Linked DNA regions of Homo sapiens. The protein of the gene in region 1 binds, or shares a complex with, the protein of each later gene. Each region holds a gene or a part of one and is shown on either strand. Other genes may lie near its edges. The genes, in order: PEF1 and KLHL12.

The links.
Region 2: the proteins of PEF1 (region 1) and KLHL12 are in contact, whole or in part, in a crystal structure (PDB 8RBH), measured with the Homo sapiens proteins. Residues at the interface, in NP_036524.1 of Homo sapiens: Gly15, Gln16, Ala17, Pro18, Gly19, Ala20, Pro21, Pro22; in NP_067646.1 of Homo sapiens: Phe289, Gln293, Arg320, Tyr321, Leu371, Glu417, Tyr434, Ile439, Phe481, His486, Cys511, Tyr512, Tyr528, Leu533, Cys558.

What each region holds. Positions count from the first base shown.
Region 1 is NC_000001.11:31,641,810-31,649,514, reverse strand, and holds the start of PEF1 (peflin), read left to right. Parts: upstream 1-4,638; 5' UTR 4,639-4,650; coding exon 4,651-4,674; exon of another isoform or gene 4,675-7,705. UniProt on the Homo sapiens protein: Calcium-binding protein that acts as an adapter that bridges unrelated proteins or stabilizes weak protein-protein complexes in response to calcium.
Region 2 is NC_000001.11:202,903,173-202,910,447, reverse strand, and holds part of KLHL12 (kelch-like protein 12), read left to right. Parts: intron 1-1,323; coding exon 1,324-1,438; intron 1,439-7,275. UniProt on the Homo sapiens protein: Substrate-specific adapter of a BCR (BTB-CUL3-RBX1) E3 ubiquitin ligase complex that acts as a negative regulator of Wnt signaling pathway and ER-Golgi transport.

The DNA.
Region 1 (7,705 bases):
CAACCTCCACCTCCAGGGTTCGAGTGATTCTCCTGCCTCAGCCTCCGGAGTAGCTGGGACTACAGGCACAAGCCACCATGCCCAGCTAATTTTTGTATTTTTAGTAGAGACAGAGTTTCACCATGTTGGTTAGGCTGGTCTTGAACTCCTGACCTCAGGTGATCTGCCTGCCTCGGCCTCCCAAAGTGCTGGGATTATAGATGTGAGCCACCGTGCCCGGCCATGGATATTTTTTTTTTTTTTTTTTTGGTGCTGGAGATCCCAAAGGACTAGATCTTTTTTGTGGCTGTCCTGAACAGTTTATGGGAATAGACGATGTCAACGTACTCTACTTATGATCCCATAATGGAAGGGGAGTGTGGCCAAATTGCCACGTCTGCTGTTCTCATTCCTCTGTTGCTTCTGTGGAAAGTTGCAAATCATCCTCTGATCCACAGCATCCAACTGGAATTTAAATTTCAGAACTGGATCTAGTTGGAATCAAAGAGAATTAATTCCATAATAATTAGGTGGGTGTTGGTATTCCTTCTCAGTAAGCCTTACAGAAGCTTGGTGCGAGCCAAGTGGCTCCTGGGAGGCTGTGTCTCTAGGGGAGGCAATATTTTCCAGTGGATGGGCTTTTCATTACCAAGCTCTGCCTCACCCCTAATGGGTCAACCGCAGGGCTTCCACGAACTCAGGAAAGTGCTCTGTGTTCTAAAAAAAGTCTGGAATCCATGCTTTCCCCTTGGGCTACAAGTGAAACAATAACAGGAACTTCTCCACCCACCTCTGTCTGCCTCAGGTAGATGAGGTTTTGGAAGTGAGTTGATTGTTTTTCAGTCTTAGGAAGATCCTGATCTCTCTTTTATCCAGCCCCCTCCAAAACAAACATACCTGGGCCTGTGTGGGTCCTCAGAGGCACAGCCCTGGCTGTTGGCTTTGGCACGTTCCTGACTCCCTAAGAGAAGATGTGGATGCTCCATCCACGAAATAGCACAGACCTCCCACAGATAGTTCTCCTAAGCCCTTTGCTGGGCATAGGGGAATGGGGGCAAATAATTCTCATAGGAGTTGGATTCTCATCACCTAGAACAGAGCCTGGCAAGAGGTGGGAACCCAATGGGATCATATGTTTGTGGAATAAATGAGTGTGTGTCACATGACTCCAGTTTGCAGGCCAGCTTGTCACTGTTCTCTCTCCAGGCAAATACCCACTTGACCTTCAACCTTCTTCCCTTCTGAAGTTTTGCAGCTCAATTCCACCAATATTTTTTGAACTGGGGGGTTAGGAAGGTAAAGAAGACACAATCTACTAACTATTAAATACTGAGTAGTTAAAAAAAATGCAGACCTGGGATCAAGTCCTACTTCTCCATTTATCTTTTTTTTTTTTTTTTTTTTTCCCCAGACAGAGTCTCTCTGTTGCCCAGGCTGGAGTGCAGTGGTGCAAACACAGCTCATTGCAGCCTTGACCTCCTGGGCTCAAGCAATCCTCCCACCTTGGCCTCTGGAGTGGCTGGGACTCCAGACACATGCCACCATGCCTGGCTAATTTTTTAAAACTATTTTTTGTAGCGATAGGGTCTCACTATGTTGTCCAGGCTGGTTTCGAACTCCTAGGCTTAAGCGGTCCTCCTCCCTGCCTCCCAAAGTGTTGGGATTATAGGCGCGAGTCACTGCGCCTGGGCTCCATTTATCTTTTTGATAACAGGAAGGTCACTTAACCTCTCTGAGCCTCAGCTCCTCATTATAAATGGGTAATAGTCTCTATCTCAAAAGACTGTGGTGAAAATTAAACAACACATAGTACTTAGCACAACGTCTGGCACCTAGTAAGCACTCAATACATGATAATAATAACTACTAACATTGAATTCATGCTAGGCACTATTCTAGGTGCTGAGGTTAGAGGACTACATAAGAAAATGACAATTCTACAATATACATGTAAACAAAGTGGACAATTCAACTAGTGACATGTATTATGAAAAAATAAGATAGATGATGGGAATGCTTGGGGGGCAGTGTCAAGAAACTCCCCCCACCCCAGGTGATATCTGAACTGAGACCTGGATGATAAGGAGAAGCCAACCAGTGAAAAGTCAAGGGAAGACTATCCCAGACAGAGGGAAAAGCTAGTCCAAAGACCTGGAGGCAGGAATGAGCAGGCAGTCAGAGACCAGCCAAAGCCAACATCCAGGAATGAGCTCTGTACATTCCAGGAATGGCACAACCAGGCCGGCATGGCTGGAATGAGGCAAGGGGGACAGCAACAGCAAGAAATGAGGCTGGAGATGCTGGTATGTGTGGCCATGAATGTCATTAGGATGAGTTTAGCTTTTATTATAAGAGTGATGGGAAGTCCCCAGGGAGTTGAAGCCAAGGAATAAGATAACCACTCTGGCTGCCTGTGGAGAAAATGAAGCGTGGGGAGAAGAGTGAGAGCAGGAACATTGGTCAGTCGGCTATTGTAGTGATCCAGGCACGGATGATAGTGTCTTGGACTACAGTGATAGTGCGAACAGGGAGAAAAGAGCAGATGTGTACATGTTTGAATTAGAGCAAATGGAGATGAGGGAGGTGAGGGAGTGTGTGGAGAAAAAAAGGACACACAGGAATGATCTTAGGTTTTTGGCCTGAGAGACTGGGTGGATTTTCTGAGATGGAGAGGAATGGGTTTTGGGGAAAACACCAAAAGAAAACTCTTATACAAGGCAGGCTGGAATACCACACAGTGACAGTACCAAGTGCAAAGGGGGAGTGGCAAGAGAGAGTGGCTAACTCTGGAGCTAAGGGGAATGTGGGAGGGTTAGGTGGAGAATGGAATTGGAACTGAGCCTTGCAGGACTGGAGTTGGGAGGGCTGCTGGTCCAGGTGAAAGGAGTGGTTTGAACCTAAGTTTGGGGCATGAGCAGGTATAATAAGCTCATTTTCAAATTTACACATTTGTTCCTGTCAGCTAAGAAAAGTGAAATTTAGAGAGGTTAAATAACTTGCCTAAATAAAATGTGGTAGATATACACTGTGGAATACTATGCAGCCATAAAAAAGGAACAAGATCATGTCCTTTGCAGGGACGTGGATGGAATTGGAAGCCATTATCCTCAGCAAACTAACAGAGAAACAGAAAACCAAACACCGCATGTTACCACTTATAAGTGGGAGCTGAATGAGGAGAGCACATACACCACTGGGGTCTGTCGGAGCGTAGAGGGAGGTGGGAAGAGGGAGAGCATCAGGAAGAATAGCTAATGGATGCTGGGCTTAACACTTGGGTGATGGGATGATGTGTGCGACAAACCACCATGGCACACATTTACCTATGTAACAAACCACATCCTGCTCATATACCCCTGATCTTAAAAGTTGGAAATTAAAAACAAACAAACAAAAAACCTGCCTAAGGTGATACAGTTAGAAAGTGATAAAACAAAGATCCTCCCTCCAAAGCAGAAGTGCTGAATGGTGGAACTGAGCACAGAAATACAGAGTAGCAGAAGGGGCCGTAAGATTGGAAAGTTGAGGCTGGGCCAGATTCTGAAGGGCCTGGAGTACCAGAATGAAGAGATTGGGCCTTATTTTGTAGGCGTGGATGAAGAGCATCCATTGTAGGCTGTGTAGTGGGCAAGTGGCATGATCAGCACTGTGATTTTGGAAAGTGCACTTGGTTAGATAGATGGACTAGACTGGATAACAGTTCGTAACATTCATTTATTCATTTATTTTAATAATCGTGTCAGTCGCTATACTAGGTACTGGAGTTATAATGACAAGCAAAAACAGACAAAACCCTAGCCCACATGAAAGAACTTGACAAAGAAATCAAATAAGCACACAAATAAGTGTAGAAACGGAACCACTGAGTGGCAAGTACATGGTGCTGAGATCACTCGGTCACCAGGATTTGACCTACGATGGGGACCGACCTAGACCTCCCTGCTGAGAACTGGACATCCATTGACCCCGGTTCTAGGCGACCCACTGTGAGCTAGGGCAAGGCAACTGCCTCTCTGCACCTCAGTTTCCCCATTTATGAAGAAAGAGGCACTAGATAATTCAATTTTCCTCCAACTCTAATGATCTGGGGTTTTTTTCTCCAAAGACCACAGATCTGTATCCCACTACAAGGGTACTAACTGGTACCCAGTACCTTGACATTAGAGGAGTAATTCCGCCATCGCCTCTCCCTACCGGGAAGAGTCGGTCGGTTCCCCGTTGTCAGGGCAACCGCCTGGCCACCGCCCCTCGTCTCCTTTCCCGCGGCTCATCTGCGGAAACTCAGGAGCTACTCCAGCAATTACGTCACTATCATGCGTCCCATTTGCCAGGTTATAACATGGCTACCGCAGCAACACCCCACCCAGGCTTCTCACTAAATTTCCCAACCTGACCACCTCTTCGGCCCACTCCACCTCAGGAAAAGGAGGAACATTAGCGCTGGTACAGCCGCCAAGACTTCCGGAAGCTCCATCAATCACTTAGCTCCCCTGGTCTCTCGGGTAGGCATCCGCCCACCGCCCCCATCGTCACTTCCGTCGGCCGACAGCACCCAAGATTGACAGGCGCGGACGTCCAATCAGATGCGGGCCCAGCCCCAAAGCCGAGACGAGGGGCGGGTTTGAGAGCGGAAAGCCCCACCCCTTGCCTGAGTGTGACGTCAGAATCACCATGGCCAGCTATCCTTACCGGCAGGTGAGTGTGTGAGGGGCCCGCGAATCCAGGTAGCGGCGGTGCCAGGCGCAGGCCCGACGTCCCCCTGCTCTTTCTCCCCGCTTTCTCCGCGCCCTTCCCACGATGGGTTCGCTTCAGCGAGGCCTTGCGCTGTAGAGAACCGAAAAGGGACCGTCGGTCGCGCCCTGCTCACGTCATGAAGGACCGCACATTCGCGAGGTCGTGTCGCGCCCCCTTGACGTCGCTCACTCGAGGATTTGGGGACCTTGGACCCCACAGGTCCAGGCTGGCGCTGGCCTGGGCTCCACAGCCTCCCAAGGCCCTCATGGGGGCCTTGGGCGGGGGCATCAGCCATGACCGGAGGTTTAGAGTTCTGGTTCCGCCGATCTCATTTGGGGCGTCGGATAAAAATCCAGGCTTCCGGACCCACCCCACACTGCATCAGAGTCATCAGGAAACTCTGGTTGTAGCAGGCGCCACAAGTGAGCTGGTTTGACCACTGACTTAGTTCAACACCGCCATTTCGCGTGTAGAAAAGTGAACCCCGAGAAGACACAGAACTTACCTGAAGTCACCAGGCAGTTAGGCAGCAGGGCCGAGGTCAGAACCCGGGCTATCTTCAGATGCCTCTTCCCCAGCGTATCTTGATTCAGTCAGGAATACCGCAGCAAGGTGATTCTGTGGCCAGAATTCTTTGTTGGGTGATAGTAGGGTGTTGAAGTGCACTTTGGTGTCAGAGGTAGGTTCATATCTTAGCTCTACCACCTAAATAGTTGTGAGCCCTTGAGCAAGCTGTTTTGCCTTTCTGAGTCCAAGTTTCCGCCTGTAAAATAGGGCCGAATAATAGGATCTGCCTCATAAAGCTGTTGTGGAGAGTCAGGAGGTGATGCTTACGAAGCGTTTGGTACATAGTGAGGTGTAACATGTGTTGCCCTTTAGCATTTTGATTTTTAGTAGACTTCTAAAAGGCCAGTGCCCGGAGGGTCCTCAAAATAGAGCCCTCATTTTACAGAGGAGGAAATGAAGCCCACAGAGGGCTGCGATCACACAGTTATTTAGGAGATGAAATCCATAAACGAAATGTGGGAAAACAAGATCAATTGGTATATTACACAGTGCTCAACTGAGTTTAGTCACAGGCCAAAAGATGTAACAGTCCTTCCAGGGAGTGCAGTCTTGTGCGGGTTACACAGTGTTTGGACCTCCATTATCCTAATCATGAAGTCCCTATCGGCATGCAGGTATTATTACCCCTAATTAACTGCTGAGGAGCAAACCCAAAGAGGTTAAGTGGCTTCCCAAAAGTCACACGTAGTAAGTGAGGGTGAGGCCATGACCAGAGCTTAGGACTTCTCTTATTGCATCCTTAGAGAGAGGTAGGAAAGAGAGAGGCCAGTGCGGGCTGGAGTTAGGAAGTGTAGCATAGCAGTTGCTTCCTAAAGTCCATTCCATTTGCTGAGTCTTGGGAGGTTTTAATAGATATTGTTAATATAGGAGGATTCTGTAGTTAACTAAAGTTTTGGAAATACTCTTAAGTATAGCTGAATAAGTTTATTGACCACAAGCTATTTCAGAATCCTTAATTTGCTAATGTACATTGTAAATCATCCAGAAAGGAATATAATATGCAGTATTTCTTAAACATATCTAACCATAGAAACTCCGCCTCCCGGCTTTCTTTTCAGATGTCTGGTCACTTTTTTGACTCTAGTATTTCTGAGGAACACAGGCTGAAAAAACATTCATAGCGCCTTGTTTCCCAGTGGCTGGTCTTCTGCCTCAGAATCAGCTGAGAGCTTGTTTAAGAAAGCACACTTTTGGGTCCCACTTCAGACCTGTTCTGTACCCAGGAATCTACATGCTAATAAGCATTAGGGACAATTGGTGTGCATCCTAAAAGCAGTGACAGGTTAGAGAGAACTGTGCTAGAATTCTAGCTGTATTACTTAATAGTTATATACCCCTGGACAAACTAAGGGCTCTGAGCCTCAGCTTCCTCACCTGTATAAAGGGAGAAATAATACCTGTGAAAAGGGCTAAAATGAGGTTAAAATGCAGGGAGCCTGGCGTGTTGCTAGTGCCTAGTACATGCCAGTGTCTGGTGGCAGCTCTTGCTGCCGTGACTGCTCTCATGATGCCATGCTGCCTGGGCTATTCCTGGAGTGAAATACTGAAAAGGAGCACAGAGAGAAGAGTCTGGAATAGAAAAAGAAATGTTGTTTTTTTTTCCTACCATACCCTTGTCCGCCTCCTGGTCTCAGGTGTTCTAAGAAAGGAAACGAGTTGTTTTAAAGCATCTCAGTCAGTGCTGCCTCCCCTCCACCCACTACATAGCTTTGGAGGATTCCAGCCTATTGTTAGGAGTCAGAATTCCTGTAATTTTCCACTGCTTCCAGTCCAGGGTACCCAAGCAGGGACTGGGTATTGGAGTAGTAAAATTCAAGCACCCTTTGGTCCTATGGGGGAACGAGCTTGGTGGATTTCAGTGCTTAAGAGCTTAGTTTTTGAGGCCAGAGAGAGTTGATTTCAAATCCCTGCTTTGTCACTCCCTTGCAGAAGTTTGTTGCAAAAGTCTGAGACTCAGTTTTCCCTTTTTTGAAAAAAATTTTTTATTTATTTGTTTATTTTTAAGACAGAGTCTTGCTCTGTCGCCCAGGCTGGAGTGCAATGGCACAATCTTGGCTCACTGCAACCTCCGTCTCCCGGGTTCAAGCAGTTCTCCTGCCTCAGCCTCCCAAGTAGCTGGAATTACAGGCGCACGCCACCACACCTGGCTAATTTTTTGTATTTTTAGTAGAGACGGGGTTTCGCCATGTTGGCCAGGCTGGTCTCAAACTCCTAACCTCAGGTGATCCACCTGCCTCAGCCTCCCACAGTGTTGGGATTACAGGCGTGAGCCACCACGCCTGGACTAGTTTTCCCTTCTTTAGAATGGGGTCATAATAGTATCTACCTCAGAATTACTCTAAAGATTAAATGAGAAAATCCACGTAAAGTGCTAGGTATGGTGTTGGGCATGTAGAATACTCCAAGTGGAGGAGTAATGCAGTTA
Region 2 (7,275 bases), about 170 Mb from region 1:
TAACTACAAACAGTTTTTCAGTTGTTCACATTAGAAAAGTTGCAGCATGGTCAGTGTCACATCTCAAACTCTTTTTCTCCTGTTTGTGATTTCTGTCTTTCTTACAACCAATTCACATATCCCTTGTGTCTAGTTCTTTACATTGTGTTTAGGAGCACAGACTCTGGAACCAGACTCGGGCCTGAAATCCCAAATTCACCACTTACTCTGTGAACTTAATATGTCTTAATATATTTGTGCCTTAGCTTTCTTATGTGTAAAACAGGGATGATAATAGTACGTTCCTCATAGGTTCTTGTTAGCATTGAGTAAGTTACTATGTGAAAACTTTTAAAACCAAGTCTTTGTACATAAGTGTTTACTACTATTTATTGTTTGTTTTCCTTTCCAGTTCGACTAAGAACTTCTTGGGTCAGGTTAATAGAGGTGCCATTTAATTAGAGCTGTGTCCTTTAGGGTCCCAACAGGAAACAGATGCTATACTCAAAACAGGACAATTTTAGAAGAGTTTTTTTTAATAAAGAAGCTGTTTACAAAGGCGCAAGTTCAGAGAAACAACAAAAGACAGTGAAATAACCTGGATCTAGGACATAAGCTATTAACAACCCCTAAGCCTGAAGGGACAAGGTTGAGGAGTGGTTACTAGAACCTTAAAGGAAAGAGAATCGTGTAGAGTCACTGCCTTGAGAGAAACCTTGACCTTTGGTTGGGCTGATCCCAACCAGAAGCTAGAAGGCATAGGAAGCCCTATTGACACAGTTCATATAGGCCAGTCTTCTGAGCCAGAGAGCAGAGTGGAAAAAGGTACAGAGTGAGTTGGGAGGCAAATGAAAGATGTCCAGTACAGAGCTGTCAGAAATAGACAATGGTAATTACAACAGGACTGTGAACCTTGGGGGAGATATTTCAGACAAAATATGATTCTTCCTGTCACCCAGAAAATAACAGAATCTTTTTGGTTTTCCCCTTAAAATTCTTATTAGTTATTATGTACTTGTGTTTGCATAATCCCTGGAAGGGCATCCAAACTATGTAAAAATAGTTAAATGTAAGCGCTGCGATAGATGGGAAATACTGCTCAACATATCTGTTTATATCATTTGATTTTTGATCCATCTAGTATGTTATCTATTTTTCAAGTAAATTTTAAAAATCATTTCTGGAAACCGAGAGCATGGTTACTACCAGCAATACTCCTGGAATCACAGGGCTTTGCAAACTGGTTTTCTGTAGTCAGAAGTTAATTATTTGCATGTGCTCTTTGTACTCTTATAGTATTACAGGTATCCCCAGTGCCTAACTCTGCTGTCTGCTATATTTCAGCCTTTCATCCGCTGTAGTTTACAATGCAGGGATCTGGTTGATGAAGCAAAGAAGTTTCATCTGAGGCCTGAACTTCGGAGTCAGATGCAGGGACCCAGGACAAGGGCTCGCCTAGGTAAGCTGGTATCTCGGCAGAATGAGGGGATGCTTTTCAACTACTTCTTGCAGGTGACAACATAGTTGAAAATAATACTCTATAAGAAGTACAGACACCTCGTTTCAGACCTTTTCTTCTATCATCTCAGACAAGTCACTTTACCACTCTAAGCTTTCTTTCCTATAAATCAAGGATGTCTTCTCTATCTACTTCACATAATTATTTGGAAATTAAATGAGATAAAATATAAAAGCACTTTATACATTGTCAGGCATTACATAATATGTTACAATTTTTTGTCAATATTATTTAGATTCTGTGAATTAGAGATAATTTTAGTGCCACATAATGGCAGGTAAGTAGTATATGCTTCCACCCACCTCTTCACTTCCCCTTATGTGGTTTTTCCATTCCGGAATGAAGAGAGGAAGAAAAGGAGCCCAGTGTGGTAGAAAGTACATGGGTTTTGGCAGTTACTGTTGGTGCAGGTACCAGTTTACCTCGTACTAGATTTATTAACTTGGGCAGGAACCTTAACCTCTGTGTGCTTCAGTTGCCTCATCTGTAAATGGAATCATCGTAGCACCTGCCTGTAACATTGTTATGAAGAGTAAATAAAGTTATTTATGTAAAGCCTTAAAACACTTCTTGGCACATAATAACTATGTGTATTAGCTATTATCTTAGCAAATAGACCTAGGTTCAAATCCAAGCCCCAGCAATGACTGGTTGGGCAAGGTATCAATTTATCTGAGCCTGTATGTCTACCACTAAGATGAGAGTTAGTGTCTTATCTCAGTGTTGGGAGGATTGAATGAGATAATGTATATAAGATACCTAACACTATAGCTGGCACACACTAAATACTCAGATATCACCATACTTTCCACTTCCTATTCTCTTTGCTTCACTGTCCAAAAGCCTAGGTGTATAGTGTATAAAAACATTTTATAAGTTATGAATTACTCTATATGTATGGGGTGGTATTTTGTTTTATTGTTTCCTTTTATCTGACTGAGGACTCATGATGCGTGCTAAGGTGTTAGTTGATAATTAAGCTGCTCACTGATGGGTTTAGGTAGAATGGTGATTTATCCGCTATATTTTATTTTTTTTAATAGAAATGAGGTCTCACTATGTTGCCCAGGGTGGAGTGCAGTGGCGTGATCTCGGTTCACTGCAGCCTTAGCCTCCTGGACTCAAGCAGTCTTCCCACCTCAGCCTCCCAAGTAGCTGGGACCGCAGGCACGTGCCACCATGCCTGGCTAATTTTTATATTTTTTTGTAGAGACAGAGCCTTCCTTTGTTGCCCAGGCTGGGTCTTGAACTCCTGGACTCAAGCAGTTCACCTGCCTTGGCCTCCCAAAGTGCTGGGATTACAGGCCTCCCATATATATATATATAATTTTTTTCCTTTTTTTTTTTTTTTTAAGACAGAGTCTTGCTCTGTCACCCAGACTGGAGTGCAGTGGTGCAATCTTGGCTCACTACAACCTCTCCCAGGTTCAAGCAATTCTTGTGCCTCAGACTCCCGAGTAGCTGGGACAACAGGCGACTGCCACCATCCCTGGCTAATTTTTGTATTTTTGGTAGAGACAGGGTTTCTCCATGTTGACCAGGCTGGTCTCTAACTCCTGGCTGCAATTGATCCACCCACCTTGGCCTCCCAAAGTGCTGGGATTACAGGCATGAGCCACCATGCCTGGCTCCCTCTCCTATATTTTTTAATGGCATAAGTACTGCATGTTCAATGTAGAACTTGTAGAAATACAGAGAAGCAAAAAATAAATAAAAATCATCCATAATCTTACCACTCAAAGATACTGCATTTTTTTAAAAAGAGAACTTTTAGATAGGGCATTGTAGATGGTATTTTCTACTACTGCAAGATGACAAAATGTGATCTGTGTTTCATATGCTTTATACACAGATACATATCAACACAAGATAGATTGAAGGACTGAATGGTGAAAAACTATGAGAATATTAGAAGAAATTATAGGAAAATATTTGTATACCTTCTGGATGGAAGTCTTTTTTTTCTTTTTTGTAAAATATATGTAACAGGCCGGGCACGGTGTCTCACACCTGTAATCCCAGCACTTTGGGAGGCCAAGGTGGGCAGATCACTTGAGGTCAGTAGTTCGAGACCAGCCTGGCCAACATGGTGAAACCCCATGTCTACTAAAAATACAAAAATTAGCTGAGTGTGGTGGTGCACACCTGTAATCCCAGCTACTCTGGAGGCTGAGGCAGGAGAATCGCTTGAACCCGGGAGGCGGAGGTTGCAGTGAGCCAAGATTGCACCATTGTACTCCAGCCTGGGCGACAGAGTGAGACTCCATCTCAAAAATAAATAAATTAATTAAATAAAATATATTTAGCATAAAATTTACCATCTTAACCATTTTTACATGTACAGTTGACTCATGTTAAATACATTGTTATACAATCAATCTCTGTAACTCTTTTTGTCTTAACAAGACTGAAACTCTGTACCCATTAAACAATAAACTCCCAATTTTGCCTTTCCTCCCAGGGTAGGAACTTTTTTTTTTTTTTTTTTTTTTTTGAGACGAAGCGTTGCTCTTGTTGCCCAGGCTGGAGTGCAGTGGCATAATCTTTGCTCACTGCAACCTCTGTCTCCTGGGTTCAAGCGATTCTCCTGCCTCAGCCTCCCAAGTAGCTGGGATTACAGGTGTGTGCCACCACGCCTGGCTAATTTTTTGTATTTTTTAGTAGAGACGGGGTTTCACCACGTTGGCCAGGCTGGTCTCGGACTCCTGACGTCAGGTGATCCGCCCACCTCAGCCTCCTAAAGTGCTGGGATTACGGGCATGAGCCACCGCGCCTGGCCATTACTTTTGTTTTTTAAAAAATAATTATTATTTTTAAAAATTGGGTTGGGTGGCCGGGCGCGGTGGCTCATGCCCGTAATCCCAGCACTTTGGGAGGCCGAGGCGGGTGGATCACGAGGTCAGGAGATCGAGACCATCCAGGCTAACACGGTGAAACCCCGTATCTACTAAAAATACAAAAAAAAAAAAAAAAAAAAAAAAGCCAGGTGTGGTGGCGGGCACCTGTAGTTCAAGCTACTCAGGAGGCTGAGGCAGGAGAATGGCGTGAACCCAGGAGATGGAGCCTGCAGTAAGCTGAGATCACGCCACTGCACTCCAGCCTGGGCGACAGAGTGAGACTCTGTCTAAAAAAAAATCGGGTTGGGTATCCCTAATCTGAAAATCTTGAAATTCAAAATGCTCCAAGATCTAAAACTTTGAGTGCCAACATAATGCTCAAAGGAAATGCTCATTGAAGCATTTTGGATTTGGGGTTTCTGAATTAGGGATGCGCAAATAGTTGTGCAAAGAAATAATGCAGATATTACAAAAATCCAAAAGTGTCTGAAATCTGTAGCGCTTCTTGTCGTAAGCATTTCAGATAAGGGTTACTCAACCTATACCATGAAAGCCAGTGATGTAGTGGAAAGAACCTGGCACTAGGAGATAAGACATTTTGCTTACTTTGATTTTTACTCCAATTTCCGACACTCACTCTAGTAACTTGCTGTTTGGACAAGTCCTTTAACTTCTCTGGGTTACCAGTTCTTTATATCAACAGAGTTAATGTTCAGTCACTAAGGTACTTTCCAACACAGAAAAATGTTTCCTTTTTGCATGATAGCACTCATTATTTGCTTATTAAATTGAACTAAAAGCTAATGAAAATTTTTGTGAATCAGTAAACCCAGAAGATTCTTTGGAGGTACATTTCTTGCATATCTCTGAACAGGCAGCAGAAGGGGCTCCTGCTTGGTTAGAGAACTTGCTTATTGCCCTGACCTTAAGGGATTAAACTATAAATCTATATATCTTCATAGTCTTGAGGTTATTTTTCAGAAGTTCTAGAAGGGAAATGCTGAAGCAGTTTCCAATTAGATTCTTAGTATCGCTTTGTCAGTGCCTTAGCAGGTAGATTGTTCTTACCATCATGTCCTCTACCCATCTCTATGCATATTGGCTGCTAAACCAGCTACCAGGATAATGACTCTTCTGCATACAGCAGAAGGAAATTAAATTGACAGCCAAGTTAAAATAGCCTGCCAAATAAGGGATTTTTAGTTATTAACCTTACCCATTACTGTCTCAAAGAAGATATAATGGAAATTACTTTTCTAATTTGTGGCTGTCTCCTTTTTTGAACTAAAGATCAGTGCAAATGGAAATGTGAGTCTCTGAACCCTGTTATTTTAGCAGTCCTGCATCTGCCTTATTTCTCTAACAACGTGTCACAGCACACACACACTCCCCTTCCCCTCTTTCTAAAAATAATGACCATGCCACTGCCAGGTTCTTCAGTTTTAGAAATGTGCTTTTTCACACTGTTCTTGTAAGATGTCCTAGACAAGCTTTTCTCATTAAAAAGATAAAAATCTCACTTAACAAGTACTCCATCATTGGCAGAGAACAAACAGGCTTCTTTCAGGTTGACTCTTTCACTAGCTTTTTTTTACACGAGTCAGATTGTTTGAGTATTGGTCTCCAACTTAGGGTTAAAACATTAAAACCTTAGGAGTTCTTCTGGGGAAGAAGGACTTTCTAGGCACAAAATAGTGGAAGAAATGACAAAGAATAAAAACATATTTGAATAAATAAAAAAATCATATACAAAATTATGATAAATTAGGAACATAGGTTTGGAACAACCCTTTAAAGGGTTAAAGGGTTGGCCTGGCAGGGTGCCTTACGCCTGTAATCCCAGCGCTTTGGGAGGCTGAGGCAGGTGGATCACCTGAGATCGGGAGTTTGAGACCAGCCTGACCAACATGGAGAAATCCTGTCTCTACTAAAAATACAAAATTAGCCGGGCTTGGTGGCACATGCCTGTAATCCCAGCTACTCGGGAAATTGCTTGAACCTGGGAGGTGGAGATTGTGGTGAACCAAGATCGTGCCATTGCACTCCAGCCTGGGCAACAAGAGCAAAACTCCATCTCATAGATAGATAGATAGATAAATAGATAGATAGATAGATAGATACATAGATAGATAGATAAAGGGTTAAAGGGTTAAAACCATTTGTGTGTAAAGAGCTCATAAGAATGCATGAGACAGGGCCAAGAGCAGTGGCTCACACCTGTAATCCCAGCACTTTGAGAGGCTGAGGCAGGCGATGGAGCCCAGGAATTCGAGACCAGCCTGGCCAACAGGATGAAACCCTGTCTCTACTAAAAGTATAAAAATTAGCCAGGCATGGTGACGCATGCCTGTAATCCCAGCTATTGGGGAGGTTGAGGCAGGAGAATCATTTTAGCCCAGGAGGCAGAGGTTGCAGTGAGCCAAGATCACACCACTGCACTCCAGCCTGGGCCACAGAGCAAGACGCCGTTTCAAAAAAAAAAAGAAAAGAAAAAAATTAGTGGTCCCAGCTACTAGGGAAGCTGAAGTGGGAGGCTAGGAGGATGCTTGAGCCCAGGAGGTCGAGGCTGAGGCTGCAGTGAACCATAATTGCACCAGTGCACTCTAGCCTGGGCAGCAGAGCAAGACCTTGTCTCAAAAAAGAAAAAAAAAACAAGAATGCATGAGAGAAACAATAAAGATTTGAGTGTACAGTTCGCAGAAGGGCAAGTAAAGCTGGCTACTAGATACAAGGGAGGGAGTTCAACCTAATTAATAATAGGGTCTTATTAGTTATAAAGAATTAAACATAATTTTTTGCCTACCAGAGTGTCAGAGATTTAAAAACTATCCAGTGCCTCAGAAAGTAGAATGAGTTGGCACCTTTATAGTGTTGGTGGGAGTGTAATTGGTAACAGCTTCAAAAAGTCACCTTATGTCTCAAAGTAATTTTTTTTTTTTT